2 separate regions of the Homo sapiens genome follow, and region 2 is linked to region 1. The links come from fine-mapping of genetic effects on gene expression. Tissue or cell type: testis. Region 1 holds a variant in brackets; the other region holds the start of a gene. All regions are shown on one strand. Distances are from middle to middle.

Evidence for each region. PIP is the estimated chance that this variant, and not a neighbour inherited with it, causes the effect.
Region 2: it holds the start of TTC39B, and the variant in region 1 is fine-mapped to the expression of TTC39B in testis (GTEx, PIP above 0.99).

Annotation. Positions count from the first base shown.
Region 1 is chr9:15,230,527-15,234,765 of GRCh38, forward strand. All of the region lies in intron 2 of TTC39B (tetratricopeptide repeat domain 39B), which reads right to left. Among named protein-coding and RNA genes, the nearest start is that of TTC39B, 75 kb to the right of the region's middle. The variant C/G (reference allele first, on the strand shown) is at 2,396.
Region 2 is chr9:15,305,570-15,309,808 of GRCh38, forward strand. It overlaps TTC39B (tetratricopeptide repeat domain 39B), which reads right to left and starts at 1,647. Exons shown (of 20, transcript NM_152574.3): 1 at 1,515-1,647. The coding sequence starts at 1,556. RefSeq lists enhancers at 285-848, 1,412-1,974 and silencers at 1,212-1,531, 1,562-1,901.

The DNA of each region.
Region 1 (4,239 bases):
ATTCATTCATGTGGTATCATGTAACAGTACTTTATTCCTTTTTATTACCTAATATTATTCCATTGTATAGCTATACCACATTTTGTTAGTCATTTGTTGATAATATATGAATAATTTGCATTTTGTGGCCATTACGAATAATGCTGTTATGAACATTCATGTACAAGTTCTTGGCCAAGGCATGGTGGCTCACTCCTGTAATCCCAGCAGGACTTTGGGAGGCCGAGGAGGGCAGATCACTTGAGGTCAGGAGTTCAAGACCAGCCTGGCCAACATGGCAAAACTCCATCTCTACTAAAAATACAAAAATTAGCCAGGCATGGTGGTGCACACCCGTAATTCCAGCTACTCGGGAGGCTGAGGCAGGAGAATTGCTTGAACCCGGGAGGCGGAGGTTGCAGTGAGCCAAGATTGTGCCACTGCACTCCAGCCTGGGTGACAGAGTGAGACTCCATCTCAGAAAAAAAAAAAAACAAACAAGTTATTGTGTGGACATGTATTTTCATTTCTCTTAATTATATATCTAGCATTGCTATGGAATGCTAAATTATGGTATGTGGAATTGCTACATTATGTGGTAACTTTATGTTTGACATTTTGAAGAACTACTAGACTGTTTTCCAAAGTGGCTGTGTGATTTTTCCGATTTTTTTAATTTTTATTTTTTGTAGAAATGGTGCCTTGCCATCTTGCCCAGGCTGGTCTTGAACTCCTAGGCTCAAGCAATCCTCCTACCCCAGCCTCCCAGAGTGCTTGGATTACCAGCATGAGCCACCATGCCCGGCCAGCTATGTGATTTTATATTCCCACCAATAATGTACTAGATTCCCAATTTCTTAACAGCTTGGCCAATACTTGTTTTTGTCCATGAGATATGGTGGTATCTCACTGTAGTTTTTGGTGTGCATTTGCTTAATGACTAATAATGTTGAGAATCTTTTTTAAGTACTTAATGGCCAATTGTATGTCTTCTTTGGAGTAATGTCTATTCAGATTATTTTCCCATTTTTAATTGAGTTACTTATCTTTTTATTATTCATTTGAATACTGCTCTAATTTTAATCACTAGGTACAACTATTTTCGAGGGTAAAGCTTACAGCTATCTTTGTTTATACTTTTTCTCTCAATCAAATCATAGATAGCAGAGCCAATTCAAATTTAACTTCCCCAATAAATCCAACACAATATGTTATGTTCCTGCGCAATGAGATAAAAGCTAGTCCATATTTAAAACTAAAATAAAATTTCAAAAATGAATAAAAATATGTCCTTCAAGGTTTTCCATCAACGTTAAAATCTCTCCTTAGGGGAGAAAAGGAATGAGTGTAGATAGGCCAACTGATGTGCTCTGGAAGCCACCATGTTTGTAATCTAGAGTCGAAATGGTATCCATCAAGCCAGTGGAGCCCTCTCAAATCCTGCAGAGACCTTGGCACATCTCACCAGGAGCTCCCCCGAGTCACCCCCACCAGGGCTGGAGCTTGAGCTCGTCACTGTGATACTCATGGGCAAGCTAGGGAATCCAGTTCTGCCCAGCTATGTCCCCCCTCCCCAACCTGAACAAGAACCTCAAGGCACCAGGCACTCCTCTGTCCAGCTCATCACCTGAAACAACAGAGGTCTCATCACAGTAAATAAAAATCAAGTATATACCCATCTGCTTGTGCGGCAAATGGCTCTTACCCATAGGCGCCACCTACTGACCTCCAGGTCAAACTGCACAGACCAATATAAAACCTGCAGACAGAATCGCGCAGGGCCTTAGAAGCGAACCCAAAAGACCCTACCCAACATACTAACGCTATAGTTACACCCCTAGAAGAGGTGGAAACGGGAGGTGGGGGGGACGCCCATCTAAATGAAAATAAATTCAAAAAGAAAAAGCAGTAGCCTCTCTAGATGAGAAGAAACCAACATAAAAATTCTGGCACCATGAAAAATCTAAATGTTGTGACATCACCAAAGGGTCACACTAGCTGTCTAGCAACAGACCTTAACCAAATAAAAACTCAGAAACGGCAGATAAATAATTCAGAGTATGGACTGCAAGCAAGCTCAATGAGATCCAAGAAAAGGTTGAAAACTCAACACAATGAAACCAAGAAAGTAATCCAAGAAATGAGGGAAGAGACTAATATCCTTTAAAAAACAAAAACAGAGCCCGCCTAGCTGAGGCGCGCAGGCAGCAGCCGTTGCTGCGACGCCTCTGGTGTACTAAATCTGGAGGGGAGGTTGGGCCCTCGAAGAGAAGGAGAAGACCCTCAAACCTTGGCTAACGGCGACGTAGCTGGCTTTTTGGAGAGGCCGCCTAACGTTCTGCCACTTCATTGGAATCAGCCTCCGCCCTTCTCAACTGGCTGCTGCAGGGCCAGTGGTGCCGGGAGACGACGGCGG[C/G]CGCTCAGGCACGGTTCGAACACTCTGGGGACTCTTTCCCTGAACTATAAAAATTCTCAAACACTGCATACACAGAGAGGATAGGAGACATGGCATTTGTGGATAGGGAAAGAGGAAATTTTGCGATAGGACAGCTGTAGATCCTGTTGCGGACACCCAGCCGGGCAGTTGGAGGCGGGGTCAGTCCAGAAGCCTTCAGATAACACCAGGGTGTAGCCCTGGCGAGAAATCTTCAGTTGCTTCAGGACCTTTTCTAGCCCCACGCGACGGCTAGGTCCTCCGTGAGAGAAAACTGGTTCGAGAAGCATGGCCAACATTCCCAATGATCCGCAGATGTGGTTTCCACCTGGCCGGTGCCATGACACCGGAACACACGGCGACAAGGAGAAGGGAGAAGAAAACCTCGCCCTCTCCCTCTCCCTCTCCCTCTCTCTCCCCACGGTCTCCCTCTCCCTCTCTTTCCACGGTCTCCCTCTGATGCCGAGCCGAAGCTGGACTGTACTGCTGCCATCTGGGCTCACTGCAACCTCCCTGCCTGATTCTCCTGCCTCAGCCTGCCCAGTGCCTGCGATTGCAGGCGCACGCCGCCACGCCTGACTGGTTTTCGTATTTTTTTGGTGGAGACGGGGTTTCGCTGTGTTGGCCGGGCTGGTCTCCAGCTCCTAACCGCCAGTGATCCGCCAGCCTCGGCCTCCCGAGGTGCCGGGATTGCAGACGGAGTCTCGTTCGCTCAGTGCTCAATGGTGCCCAGGCTGGAGTGCAGTGGCGTGATCTCGGCTCGCTACAACATCCACCTCCCAGCCGCCTGCCTTGGCCTCCCAAAGAGCCGAGATTGCAGCCTCTGCCCGGCCGCCACCCCGTCTGGGAAGTGAGGAGCGTCTCTGCCTGGCCGCCCATCCTCTGGGATGTGAGGAGCCCCTCTGCCTGGCTGCCCAGTCTGGAAAGTGAGGAGCGTCTCTGCCTGGCTGCCATCCCATCTAGGAAGTGAGGAGCGCCTCTTCCCCGCCGCCATCCCATCTAGGAAGTGAGGAGCGTCTCTGCCCCGCCGCCCATCGTCTGAGATGTGGGGAGCGCCTCTGCCCCGCTGCCCCGTCTGGGATGTGAGGAGCGCCTCTGACCCGCCGCCCCGTCTGGGATGTGAGGAGCGCCTCTGCCCGGCCGCGACCCCATCTGGGAGGTGAGGAGTGTCTCTGCCCGGCCGCCCCGTCTGAGAAGTGAGGAGTCCCTCTGCCCGGCAGCCGCCCCATCTGAGAAGTGAGGAGCCCCTCCATCCGGCAGCCACCCCGTCTGGGAAGTGAGGAGCGTCTCTGCCCGGCAGCCACCCCGTCCGGGAGGGAGGTGGGGGTCAGCCCCCGCCAGGCCAGCCGCCCCATCCGGGAGGGAAGTCGGGGGGTCAGCCCCCCGCCCAGCCAGCCGCCCCATCTGGCAGGGAGGTGGGGGGGTCAGCCCCCCGCCCGGCCAGCTGCCCCATCCAGGAGGGAGGTGGGGGGGTCAGCCCCCCGCCCGGCCAGCCGCCCCGTCTGGGAGGTGAGGGGCGCCTCTGCCCGGCCGCCCCTGCTGGGAAGTGAGGAGCCCCTCTGCCTGGCCACCACCCCGTCTGGGAGGTGTACCCAACAGCTCATTGAGAACGGGCCATGATGACAATGGCGGTTTTGCGGAATAGAAAGAGGGGAAAGGTGGGGAAAAGATTGAGAAATCGGATGGTTGCCGTGTCTGTGTAGGGAGAAGTAGACATGGGAGACTTTTCATTTTGTTCTGTACTAAGAAAAATTCTTCTGCCTTGGGATCCTGTTGATCTGTGACCTTACCCCCAACCCTGTGCTCTCTGAAACATGTGCTGTGTC
Region 2 (4,239 bases), 75 kb after region 1:
TTCATTCAACAAATATTTATTTACCAAGTATCTGTGTGCCAGGCTCTCTGCTACTCTGAAACCTAACTTCCACCCAGAGTTTCACCCACAGAAACCTAACTTCCCTCCTCATCGGCTAATGCATCTCAACCGTTCATCTAGTAGGCAGTGAGCATAGCTGGGGTGACCATTTGTCAAAGTATCTCCGAAACAGTCCCAGTTTACACCTATTATCCCAGTGTTAATTAATAATAGCACCGCCTCAACAATGCCCTAATCTAGAGAATTACATAGTTCTAAGCACAGCAAATCTCCTACAAACAGATCGGGATTCAAATATTTCATTCTACAGTCTTGGGATCCTCAATGCAAGGGACAGGCTGTAAGCAAGGGTCTGGACAGCCCGGCTTGCCCTCTTGTCTCTCTGTCATGCAGAGGAGCTGTAGTTCAGTTTTTGTTTTTTGTTTATTTTACGGAGCACATTTAAAGTATAGTCTTCCTTGTCAGGAGATTCCTGGCACTAAAGAGATGGACGGGAAACTTAACCGCCTCCTCCAGATCGTCCACTATTGCATCATTTGAAACCAAAGCCTTCTAAAGGCAGCGACTCGCACAATTCAAGTCAGGTAAGATGGCAGGAACAGCAGCTGTGGGTGCTGGCTGCTGCTGGAGCCTCGGTCTCAACTTCAAGAGCAGGGAGAGCGCTGTCTCTGGAGTTGCCAGGTGCTGAAATGAATAGTCAATAAATCAACAGGTCCGGCGCGCTAGCCCCTGGGTGCTCAGGCCCGGGCGCGCCACGACTGAAGGAGTGGCTAATTACTCAAACACAGTTGAAACCAAAGGAGGCCGGAGTCGGTTCTCAAAGTGGTTTCCCTCCGGCCACCACCGACTCTGAGGACCTGCTAGGGGAAGTGTCCCGGCCCCGTGGAGGGAGAGGGAAGCACCACAGCCTGGGCTGCGGCTCTAGCCCTCCAGCCCCAGCCCCTGGCAGCCCTGCCCTGCTGTCGCGGCAGGTACCCCTCTACTCATTGTTCCTCAGGCTGCCCCCTCTTTTCATCAATCGTAAGCCTTTCGGTTCTGCCACCAGGAAACTTCCATAGAAGGTGAGATTCCCAGGTCGAGGGATGATTCCACGAACACCCAGAGAGCCAGTGCCAGGACTTCAGGGTCAGACTTCGTAAAGCCCAGGCGTCGCTGGGCCGGCCCGGAACAGCTCAGAGCTGCGGGTCCTATGGTCCCGCGCCCTCACGCCCATCCAAGTGCTGGCAGGACGTGGGTCCTCCATCCCCACGACTCGCGGGGCCGGCGCTCCGAACCTCGGCACTGCGTCCGCTCCGCGCGCCGCAGGGACCCTCCTAGCTCCAGCGGGGACAGACCTACCAAGGCCGGGCGCCCCCACCCGGCGCCCGCCAGCCCACCCCAGAGAGGGGACCAAGGGGGCGGGGCCTCGGCCGTCCTAGCCGGGCTCACTCTTCTCTCCCGGACTCCTGTCCAGGGCTTCAGGGGCCGGGCCCGCAATCCCCATCGGATCGTACCTCGTCCGCTTCCAGCTCCGCTCGGCTGCCTAAGAGCGCCATATTCCTCCTCTGGCTGCTGCCACCCAAAAACCAAGCAGGGAACTCAGAGCCGACTCCTGCTCTCGGCTCTGGGCTCAGCCCAGCGCAAAGGAGGGCAAAAGGGGACGGCCCGGCGCTCCCTCCGGGTCTCGGGCGGGGCCTGAGTGCAGCTACTCGATTTCCCCGCCCCCGGAGCCGGCAGGCCAGCACAGCATCCATTTCCTCCCCGGACGCCGCGCCGCTGGCCGGGCCACTTGCCCGGCCCCCAGCGGGCGGCAGCCCCGCCCAAGTGGGTGGAGTCACCTCCCAGATAAAGTTTCCCGGTCTGGCACGCCCTCTGGGAGGGTTTCCTAAGCTTTCCTGCCGCCTGTTCTCTGCGGTGGCTGGGCACACCTGGAAAGAAGCTAGAGAGCGCGGGCATGACGAAGCCAAGGTCAAAGCAGCGCCCCACCTGGGGTCCGTGGAAGCATCCACCTGGTCTTTGGTCCGGTGCCAGTCCTTTTCCCTCGCCAGGTGGCCACCGCATCTCGCAGATGGTGTGGCCTGAGGGCAGCCTTGGGTCACGGTCACTGGTCCCCGAGAGGCCTCTGACACACCACCCACCTGGACTGTAGGTGGAAGGACTCTGCTTGCTTCTGTGTTCAAAAAATAGAAAAAAACGCGGGACAGAGATTTATACATATTGGAACTCCTCTACTTCCCCCTACCCGGACAGTGTATTCTCCCCATAGCATCCTGTATTTTGTAACTCCAAACATAGGTGTATAATTCGTGCTTGAACTATAAACTCCATGGGGGTAGGATGCTATCTGTCCTCTTCAAGACTGTATCCCCAACACCCAGAACAGTGTCTTGCACATCGTAGGTGCTCAACAGATATTTGTTGGCTGAGTTTAGAAACTGAACCTTGCTTCTGACATGTAAAATAACTGGAAAATTAAAAGCTAGATCTTTAAGAGTTTGGGGGAGAGAGGTCAGATTTACTTTACATACAGAAAAATGCACCAAGTTAAATGTGTGATTCAGTGACAAGTGTTTACAAAGCATCCCAGTCATAATATAGAACATCCTGAAAAGTTTTCTGTGACCCTTTGCTGTCAATTTCCTACCTCCGCTCCCTAGCCTCTGTCAATCACTGATCTGCTATCAACATCGATTTGCCTTCTCTAGAATTTCATATAAATTTAATTAGAGCATGTGGTCTTCCATGTCTGGCTCATGAAAGGCTATTTAATAGTCATCCAGTGATAACTGTAAAAACAGCTAATAGTTCTTGAGTCCTTACTATGTGCCAGGACTCTACTGAACCTCTTGCATATAGTATTTCATTTATTCTTCATAACCCCATAAAGTAGGGTGCTGTTCTCTTTCAGATGAGTAAACTGAGGCTCAGAGAGTTCAAGTAATATGCCTGAGGCCAGACAGCAGTTAAGTAAGTAGGGATGCCAGCATCTGAACCCCAGCAGTCTAACTCTAGGGCCTAGCTGATAACCATTGCTTTGTACTGTACTGGCTCTAGCCACCCTCCCTCTCTTTCTTTCTGTGTCAGTAGAGCAGTTGTCTGTGCAAGTCCATTACATACATTTTCAGTGAGTCACTTTGCATCCTTAATACTTGCTGTACAATTTTAATGGCTTGGCATGTACTTTTGTACTAGAATAATAAAATGGTTTCTACAGCAGAAACATTGAAAAAATGGGTTAGATCGTGTGATGGTTGCTCAACTCTCTGAATTGTCTAAAAATCCTTGAATTGTGTACTTACAATAGGTGGAACTTATGATTATGTAAATTATATCTTAGTAAAGCTGTTTTAAAAAAACTAGCTGACACAGGCTAGGTGTGGTGGCTCACGCCTGTATGGGATTACAGCACTGGGAGACTGAGGAAGGAGGCTAACTTGAGTTTAGGAGTTCGAGACTAGCCTGAGCAACATAGCAAGACCCAATTTCTAAATAATAATACTTTTTTTTTTTGAGAGACAGTTTCACTCTCATCTCCCAGGCTGGAGTGCAATGGCTCGATCTTGGCTCACTGCAACCTCCGCCTCCTGGGTTCCCACTAATCTGTAAATTGCTTAGAAGGAGGCACTATCTTATTCATCAGTGCAGGTACTCAATAAAAAAGCTCCAGGTGCAGTGGCTCATGCCTGTAATCCCAACACTTTGGGAGACCGAGGCGAGCGGATCACGAGGTCAGAAGTTCGAGACCAGCCTTACCAACATGGTGAAACCCAGTCTCTACTAAAAATACAAAAAGCAGCTGGGCATGGTGGTATGCGCCTGTAATCCCAGCTACTGAGGAGACTGAAGCAGGAGAATTGCTTGAACCCTGAAGGCGGAGGTTGCCGTGAGCCGAGATCGTGCCATTGCACTCCAGCCTGGTGAAAAGAGTGAAACTCCGTCTCAAAAATAATAATAATAATAATACTTTTATTATTTAGAACACATGCTCTGAACACTTAGAATCAGATGGACCAGAAGAGACATAGAGTTTGTTTAATTCCAATACCCTTGAAAGTTTCCATTCCTTCCCAGACCCCCAACCCACTCCTACCTCCTCCTATGTTTCACTTTCTGAGGCTAGAATTCCTATCCAGGTCCAGATTCTACTCTGTATTACTCATGCATGGTTCTGTTTTTCAAAGTTCATTGGTTCCTGAATTGATAGCACATCCTTTTGACATGAAGCCATCTCACTGGTAG